2 linked regions of the Homo sapiens genome follow. The protein of the gene in region 1 interacts with the protein of each later gene in a pairwise test. Each region holds a gene or a part of one and is shown in the gene's direction. Other genes may lie near its edges.

Region 1 (5,134 bases):
ACAAGAGAATCAGTCCTTGCACTCAAGTCGTTTTTTACAGTCAAATTCAGGAAGTACACACTGATGGAAAGAATCAAAGTAATGTAAAATTACATTAGGTAAGAGCTACAAGGCAGAAATATGTGATAGGATAAGATGAGGGGACCTGATTTGGACATTTCAGTCAAGACTTGAAAAATGATAAGGTGTTAGGTAAAAGCATAAAAGAGTCCAAACAGAGGAAATGGATTGTGTGAGGCCCCAAGGTGGGCAGACACACTTGAGGTGTTTAAGCAACTAAATTCAGTCAACCTTGGCTAGAGCATAGTGAGGGGATGAGGCGGATGGTGCCCGGATCACTGGACCTGCAAGGCTGTAGTAAGAGGACTGCCTTCTAAGAGCAAGGGTGTGGCAGCCAAATCCCTCCAATGGCCTATAAGGTACTTTGTGACCCTCCTCTCCCCACCTCATCTGGTTTACTTCTCTGACCTCTTCTACCACTCAGTCCCATCTCATTCCATTCTAACCACATTGACCTACTTACTGTACCACAGACATACCAGGCACCCTCCTTGGGGCCTTTGCACTCACTTAGAATGCTTTGGGTCTACCTTGACCACAGTCTTTAAAATTGCAACATTAAACCCCACCTTGGCACTCTTTTTTTTCCCCTCTTGGTCTAATTTTTGCTTTTTATGCTAATATTTATCACCTAACATCTTATGGAATTTACTTATGTTCATTATTCCTTTTCTGTCCCCATTAGAATATAAGCTCCCTGAGGGCAGGAACTTTTGATGTTTTATTTACTGAAGTATGCCAAGTGCCTAAAACTGCTTGGCACATATTAGGGGGCTCTATAAATATTTGCTCAATCTTTTTTTTTCTTTAAGAGACAAGGTCTTGCTGAGCCCAGGGTGGAGTGCAGTGGCACAATCATAGCTCACTGCAGCCTCGACCTTCTGGGCTCAAGCTGTTCTTCACTTCAGCCTCCAGAGTAGCAGGATTACAGTGTTGAGCCACCACAACCAGCTTGCTCAAGAATTTAATGACCCATAGTAAAGGCCTACAGTATTTAAAAAAGAAAGAAAAAGGAAAAAAGGAAGGAAGGAAAGAGGGAGGGAGAAAAAAAGAGAAAAGAAAGAAAATAAAAGAATATAATGGGGTGTCACCAGGCGCCGTGGCTCATGCCTGTATCCCAGCACTTTGGGAGGCCGAGGCGGGTTGATTGCTTGAGCTCTGGAGGTGGAGACTAGCCTGGGCAACATGGTGAAACCCTGTCTCTAACAAAAATACAAAAATTAGCTGGATGTGGTGGTGGTGTGCGCCTGTGGTCCCAGCTGCTTGGAGTTGGGGTGGGGTATTGGGGTGGGAGGATTGCTTGAGCCGAGGAAGCAGAGGTTGCAGTGAGCCAAGATCACACCACTGCACTCCAGCCTGGGTGACAGAGTGAGACCCCATCCCAAAAAAAAAAAAAAGAATGGGAAACCATTGAAGGTTATAAGGAAGGAAGTGACGTGATCTGGAAAAGATTCCTTTGCTCTTTGGAGAATAGATTGTAGAATGAATGTGGAAGTAAGCAGGTTTGGTGAAGGAAGTTTGGCTATGAAGGGAAGGAGGGTGGGATTTGATTGTGTTACGAGCCAAGGGGAAAATCTTTCCCTTTGCCCTCTGAAGATCTGCTGAAAAATCAGCTCACAAAAGGCAGGTTAACTGGAGAAAAGGCATACAAATTTATTAACATGCACATTGGGAGAACCATAAAGTGATTACCCATCTCCCTACAGAGTTCGTGAGTTTATATACCATCTGGCAAAACAGATTATGGGAGGGGTGTCTCACGTGTGTCCATGTGAAGAGACCACCAAACAGGCTTTGTCTGAGCAACAAGGCTGTTTATTTCACCTGGGTGCAGACAGGCTGAGTCTGAAAAAAAGGAGTCAGCAAAGGGTGGTGGAATTATCATTAGTTCTTATAGGTTTTGGGATAGGCATTGGAGTTAAGAGCAATGTTTTGGGGGCAGGGGGTGGATCTCACAAAGTACATTCTCAAGGGTGGGGAGATTATAAAGAACCTTCTTAAGGGTGGGGGGGAGATTACCAAGTACATTGATCAGTTAGCGTGGGGCAGAAACAAATCACAGTGGTGGAATGTGATCAGTTAAGGCTATTTTCACTTCTTTTGTAGATCTTCAGTTGCTTCAGGCCATCTGGATGTATAAGTGCAGGTTACTGAGGATATGATGGCTTAGCTTGGGCTCAGAGGCCTGACAAGGGGTAGAAGAGAAATTCTGTTTTTCTGTTTTTGTAGAGACGGGGTCTTGCTATGTTGCAAGCCTAATCTCGAACTCCTGGGCTCAAGTAATCCTCCTGCCTTGGCCTCCCAAAGTGCTGGGATTACAGGCCTGAGCCAGCATGTCCAGCTCTATTTGTTTTTAAATAAACCGAACTTTGGCCAGAAGGAGATTCTGTTGAAGGGCAATAAAGGATTACTAGAGAGAATGGAATGGGGACAGAGGTTGACTTGTTAATAGTTCTCTTTGGAATTTGAGTGATCCTGAGGTACACAATACCTGTGAAAGGGTTTGTTCAGGTGTGGTTACATGTTAGTCTTATTGGGAGGGGAAGAAAAAACAAGTATTCTTTTTAGTGAGTTTGGACTTTAGGCAGATAAAGAGTTCCAGAGAACAACTTTATCCTGGCTTTGGGAGAGTCTGGGGTGGAAGGATCAGAGAGACCTTGCGGCTTCTTGAGTTCAGCATGTCAGAGGGCCATATTTTGGGGTATTGGTTTCTTTTCTTTTCTTTTTTTTTGAGACAGAGTCTTGCTCTGTCTTTGTTGCCCAGGCTGTGCAGTGGCATGATCTCAGCTCACTGCAAGCTCTGCCTCCTGGGTTCAAGCGAGCACGTCTGGCTAATTTTTTTGGATTTTTAGTAGAGATGGGGTTTCGCCATGTTGGCCAGGCTGGTCTCGAACTCCTGGCCTCAAGTGATCTGCCTGCCTTAGCCTCCCGCAGTGTTGGGATTACAGGCATGAGCCACCGTGCCTGGCCTGGGGTATTAGTTTCTGAGTTCCAACAGTTAGACGGGATTGGAGGAGCAGGACCCTGAAGAGGAGGAGGGTAAGACAGTGCAAATGGAGGTAGATTTGAAGTTGGTTTTTTTTTTTCTGAAGGAGGAGGCAAGCTCTTTTGATGAAAATGAGGTGGTAAAGTCAAAGGTTTGGGGGGAGAGTTTGATACAGAGGCTTAGCAGGGACTGCATTTTATCACAGTATAAGAATGCTGGTCGTGGATTTGAAAGAACAAGTCGCTTAATCTCCATAAACCTCAATTTCCTTATAACTAAGGTGGAGGTGATACTAGTACATACCTCATAGAGTCACCAGGAGATTGAGAGATCCGGTAAAGCTCTTCATGGGGTCTGACATAGAGTAGGCACTCACAAAATATCAACTAATTTTAGCTGTTAGAGAAAAGGCGGCCATTATAACAGTTAGGGAGCAGTGAAAATCAACCAGGCACATTTTCTCATTGTTGATGGTCAGCCACCTATGGTTTACTAGATTAGGAATAAAAATAGCTAATCTCTGTTCTCCCACTGATTTGCCATCTGTTCTCAGACAGATCTTTTGTCCCTCTGATCCTTGGTTTCTTCTAGGATAAAATGAAGGTTTTGGACTTAATGACTACTACAGGCTGTTTCAGTGTAACCATGCTACATCTCTAAGAGGCAGAGAAACCGCCTACCCCCATTCTCCCAGACACACCTAAACAACCCCTATCCACACACACAGTCACAGTAAGCATCAGAGATACACAAATGCTCCCAAACAGGAGGCTTTCATCCTTGACCCATCCCAGCCCTGGCCTCACAGTCTTTGCATGTCTCCAGGGCTGTAACGCCGGCCCCCTTGAGGCCACTTGCTCAGCTATACTAGTTGTATCTCAGTGCTGCAGCCAGCCAAGAGTAAACCCGTGAGCATCTTGAGAGTGCTTGAGAGAAGCTGGACCCCATGTGAATGGTGGATGAGAGGGAGATAGCTATCACCCTTGGAAGGCCTCAAAATTTGGCCTCATTGTGACTGACTGCTTTGGCTGGGTCTTTTTGTTTCAGGCCATCATGAGGAAGCCACGAGCAGCCGTGGGAAGTGGTCACAGGAAGCAGGCAGCCAGCCAGGAAGGGAGGCAGAAGCATGCTAAGAACAACAGTCAGGCCAAGCCTTCTGCCTGTGATGGTAAGGAACTAGGTTGTGGCCCAAGGCTCATTGGCCATGAAAGGCAGATTCAGGCTGGGAAGGGATTGTGATACGTATCAAGACATTAAGAGACTTACTAAGGGCCAGGTGCGGTGGCTCACACCTGTAATCCCAGCACTTTGGGAGGCCGAGGCAGGTGGATCCCTTGAGCCCAGGAGTTTGAGACCAGCTTGGGTAACATGGCGAAATCCCCTCTCTATGCTCGCGTGGTGGTGAGCGTCTGTAGTCCCAGCTACTCGGGAAGCTGAGGTGACAGGATCGCTTGAGCCTGGAAGGCAGAAGTTGCACTGAGTCAAGATAATGCAACTGCATTTCAGTCTGGGCAACAGAGCCAGACTCTTGTCTCAAAACAAAAGAGACTCACTGAGGGTGTAATTCTGACTGTATTGCTGTGTGACATTGGGACAATTGCTCTGAATGGCTGCTTTCTTACCAGTAAAATGGAGCAGTAGTTCAGCATTTCCTCCCTCATGTGGCTTTCATGGGACCAAATGAGTTTATGAGCCTGAAAGTGTTTTGTGAATAGGAAGGTCCTGCACCAGTATACATTCTAGCTGGCTAAAACTATTAGGTTTTCATTATGGCTCAGAGACAAGCCAGTAGTACCACCCTGAGAAAATTAAGGCCAGAAACTTAGCCACAGCTACACACAATTACATAACTCTGGTCTGACTCCAGCTCCAAAGCTTAAGGGGGTTAGTTGGGGGAAGCCCTAAGTGGGAGCATACTGCCACAGGCTGCTGTGTCCCAAGACCCTGATGCACAGCCTGTGCAGGGATGATTGCTGAGTGTCCTGGGGCCCCAGCAGGCCTGGCCAGGCAGCCGGAAGAGGTGGTATTGCAGGCCTCTGTCTCCTCATACCATCTATTCAGAGACGTAGCTGAAGTCACAGCCTTCCG
Region 2 (3,899 bases), on another chromosome or scaffold:
CGATCTCAGCTCACTGCAACCTCCGCCTCCCAGGTTCAAGCAATTCTTCTGCCTCAGCCTCCTGAGTAGCTAGGACTACAGGCATGCACCACCACACCTGGCTAATTTTTGTATTTTTAGTAGAGACAGGCTTTTTCACCATGTTGGCCAGACTGGTCTCGAACTCCTGACTTCGTGATCCACCCACTTTGGTGATCCTCCCACCTTGGCCTCCAAAGTGCTGGGATTACAGGTGTGAGCCACCACACCCAGCCCACATTTCTGTTTTATTGTTTCTTAGAATTTCTGTGTTTCTACTTCCATTATCCATCTGTTCTTAAATTTTGTCTGCTTTTCCATTAACACTGGTACCGTATTAATCATAGTTGTTTTAAATTCCTGGTCTGATTATTTCCAGCATTCCTGCCATATTTGACTCTGATTCTGATGCTTGCTCAGTCTCTTCAAACTGTGTTTTTTTCCTTCCATATCACTTGTAGTTCTTTGTTGAAAGGTGGACATGATACATTGGGTAAAAGGAAATCTGGGTAAATAAGGCTTTTGTAATGTAGCAGCAGCAATGTGTGTCTGGGGTGTGAGGGATGTTATGTAGTCCTATGATTAGGTCTCAGTCTTTTGTTGAGCCTGTGCCCCTGGACTGGGAACTTCACCAGTGCTTCTTGGGGTCTTTCCCCCTAGCTTAGGTGGAGCAGGATGGCTAGAGGGGAGTGGAGTTGGGTATTTCCCTTCCCCCAGGAAGGTTAAGCTCTATAAAACCCTGTGAGGTCAGGCTCTAGTAAAATAGTTTCTTCTGAGGACAGAGCTTGTTAAGAAAAACAGAAAGCTCTGGTGTATTTCAAAATGTTCCTTTTCTCCTCCCCCAACTGGAAGCATGAGGAGATTTTTCCCTGATATTCACTGTGAGTACCAGGTAGTGCTTCTGGAGGTAAAACTCTCAAAAGTGTGGGAGACAGGGCCCTATAACTGGGTTCCCCTGGAGTTTTTAACTCTCAGACTTATTTACATGTACCCCTAGCAATTTGTCAGTTACAGTTTAGGTTTCCCTCCTCTGGCTTCCAGGCCTCTGCTCATTGGTTTCTGCTCTAGTACGCTTTGACTCTCAGTATCTTCCTGTCTGTCTCTCTGGTTTTGGGGACAGTGAATTGCCCTGTGACCTTCCTTCTCTGATGGACCTAGGAGTAGTTGTTGATTTTCTGTTTGTTCAGCTTTTTGTTTCTTATTAGGAGGCAGTAGCAACTTCTAAGCTCTTTACATGCCAGATCGGTAGGCAGAAGTTCTACCAACTGCTTTACTTCATTGAACTCTCCCCATGCTAGGAGGTTTAGGTACTGTTACTATAACTGTTATACACATCAGGGAATAGCAGCTTAGTGAAGTTAAATATCTTGTCCAAGATCCCACACCACAGCCTTAAACTCAGCACTCTGCCTCTTCAGTGTGTGCCTTTCTTCACTGTATACTTCCTTCTCCATGAAAAGTGTGGTTTTTGAAGTCAAAAGGCTGAGATTCAAGTCATTTAACTTCTAAACCTACCCCATGATTATTTATAAAATTACCAGTAAATTCCTATCCTGTCTATGTGACTGAACTAATATGTGGATCAGATGAAAAAGTGAATATGAAATTGCCTTTTGAACTAAAACTCATAGTCCAAATACATGAAAGTTTCTTTGTACACTTACATCTGAAACAGCATTGCTGTTGGGTCCCATCCATGTCCTGAGTTCCTTTTCTAGGCTCACCTCTGCCAAGCCTTCTTTCTTCCTTTTGACTTGCTCCTAAGTCACAAAATCTTCCTGGGTATCACATTATCCATTTTGAAGGGAGGACCTCCATTTTATAATTAATTGAAAACATATGAACTGGAACTATTAAACTATATGTGGCGGAGAGTATGTCTCTCTTGGGCCAACATAGGCATCCACTAGAGAGAAGCGAGGTAGACTAGAAGTTTCATGGAAGTCACTGGTTGTGACATGGCCATTGGAGTCATCACTTTGGTAGACTTGGTTCACACCTAGCCAAGCCCTTTGACATATTTAGGAATATCTCTAGATGTAAAGGAGCTCTGTGGAATCTAAGTGGAACCCATGGGAATGCCCTGAGTGTTTAAACTGGAATGCTTTAAGGATTCTCCAGGGACCTTGGGATTACCCCTTACTCGCTCACAAATGGGATCACTGGATGCCCACCCTTTCAAGGTTCCCAGTGTATTGGGGGAAATTTCAGCCAGATATCGGGTAAAATTCACCCCCGATATTTCATGTAGGTTCTTTTCTATTTTCCCTAAGTGTCGGCCGGTCTGAGAAATAAAGGGACAGAGTACAAAAGAGAGAAATTTTAAAGCTGGGTGTCCGGGGGAGACATCACATGTCCGCAAGTTCCGTGATGCCCCCTAAGCCGTAAAATCAGCAAGTTTCTATTAGTGATTTTCAAAAGGGGAGAGAGTGTACAAATAGGGTGTGGGTCGCAGAGATCACATGCTTCACAAGGTAATAAGATATCACAAGGCAAATGGAGGCAGGGCGAGATCACAGGACCACAGGACCGGGGCGAAATTAAAAGTGCTAATGAAGTTTCGGGCACACGTTGTCATTGATAACATCTTATCAGGAGACAGGGTTTGAGAGCAGACAACTGGTCTGACCAAAATTTATTAGGTGGGAATTTCCTCGTCCTAATAAGCCTGGGAGCACTACAGGAGACTGGGGCTTATTTCATCCCTACAGCAGTGACCATAAAAGACGGCCGCACCCGAAGCGGCCATTTCAGAGGCCTACCCTCAGGGACGCATTCTCTTTCTCAGGGATGTTCCTTGCTGAGAAAAAGAATTCAGCGATATTTCTCCCATTTGCTTTTGAAAGAAGAGAAATATGGCTCTGTTCCGCCCGGCTTACTGGCAGTCAGAGTTTAAGGTTATCTCTCTTGTTCCCTGAACATTGCTGTTATCCTGTTCTTTTTTCAAGGTGCCCAGATTTCATATTGTTCAAACACACATGCTCTACAAACAATTTGTGCAGTTAACGCAATCATCACAGGGTCCCTGAGGTGACATACATCCTCCTCATCTTACAAAGATGATGGGATTAAGAGATTAAAGTAAAGACAGGCATAGGAAATCACAAGGGTATTGATTGGGGAAGTGATAAGTGTCCATGAAATCTTCACAATTTATGTTCAGAGATTGCAGTAAAGACAGGAGTAAGAAATTATAAAAGTATTAATTTGGGGAACTAATAAATGTCCATGAAATTTTCACAATTTATGTTCTTCTGCCATGGCTTCAGCCGGTCCCTCCATTTGGGGTTCCTGACTTCCCACAACACCAGTGAGTTGTTGCTTCATTACATCTGGCCTTGACCTGGGCATTCTTTGCATCAGTGCACCATGGCCATGCACAAAATTTTCTGAATCCTAGAAGAAAGGGAGCCATACTGTGGAATCATCTTTTACCTTACCAATGGGTTACCTTTTTTCTTCTTAAATAACATGGCTCAAAGATTGTCAGGGCTGCTGCAGATAAAATGAAATTTCTAGGCTTCTCTTGTGGGAAATAAATAATCAAAGAATTTAGCCCATTTGCTATATAGATAGCAAGTCTTCCAAAATTATGTCTGAAATTTCCATATCTTAATTACTTTGGGGCATAATTTACAGTTTATGTAATCCAGTATATGTGGACTTAATTGTATTTCTTGAAATATGTATATATATATGTATATATATATATATATATTTTTTTTTTTTTCGAGAGGGTCTCACTTTGTCACCCAGGCTGGATGGAGTACAGTGATGCAGTCACGGCTCACTGCAGCCCTGACCTCCCAGGCTCAAGCGATCCTCCTCCCTTAGCCTCCTGAGTAGCTGGGACTATAGGCACAGGCCATTACACCCGGCTA

What was found. Proteins that work in one complex are often made in the same cells at the same time.
Region 2: the proteins of MUTYH (region 1) and TDRD7 interact in a two-hybrid assay, tested with the Homo sapiens proteins (one large-scale study listed by BioGRID and IntAct).

Annotation. Positions count from the first base shown.
Region 1 is NC_000001.11:45,333,471-45,338,604, reverse strand, and holds part of MUTYH (adenine DNA glycosylase), read left to right. Parts: exon of another isoform or gene 1-407; coding exon of another isoform or gene 408-419; intron 420-3,637; exon of another isoform or gene 3,638-3,778; intron 3,779-4,093; coding exon of another isoform or gene 4,094-4,099; coding exon 4,100-4,214; intron 4,215-4,971; exon of another isoform or gene 4,972-5,001; coding exon of another isoform or gene 5,002-5,043; coding exon 5,044-5,134. UniProt on the Homo sapiens protein: Involved in oxidative DNA damage repair. Initiates repair of A*oxoG to C*G by removing the inappropriately paired adenine base from the DNA backbone. Possesses both adenine and 2-OH-A DNA glycosylase activities.
Region 2 is NC_000009.12:97,490,978-97,494,876, forward strand, and holds part of TDRD7 (tudor domain-containing protein 7), read left to right. Parts: intron 1-3,899. UniProt on the Homo sapiens protein: Component of specific cytoplasmic RNA granules involved in post-transcriptional regulation of specific genes: probably acts by binding to specific mRNAs and regulating their translation.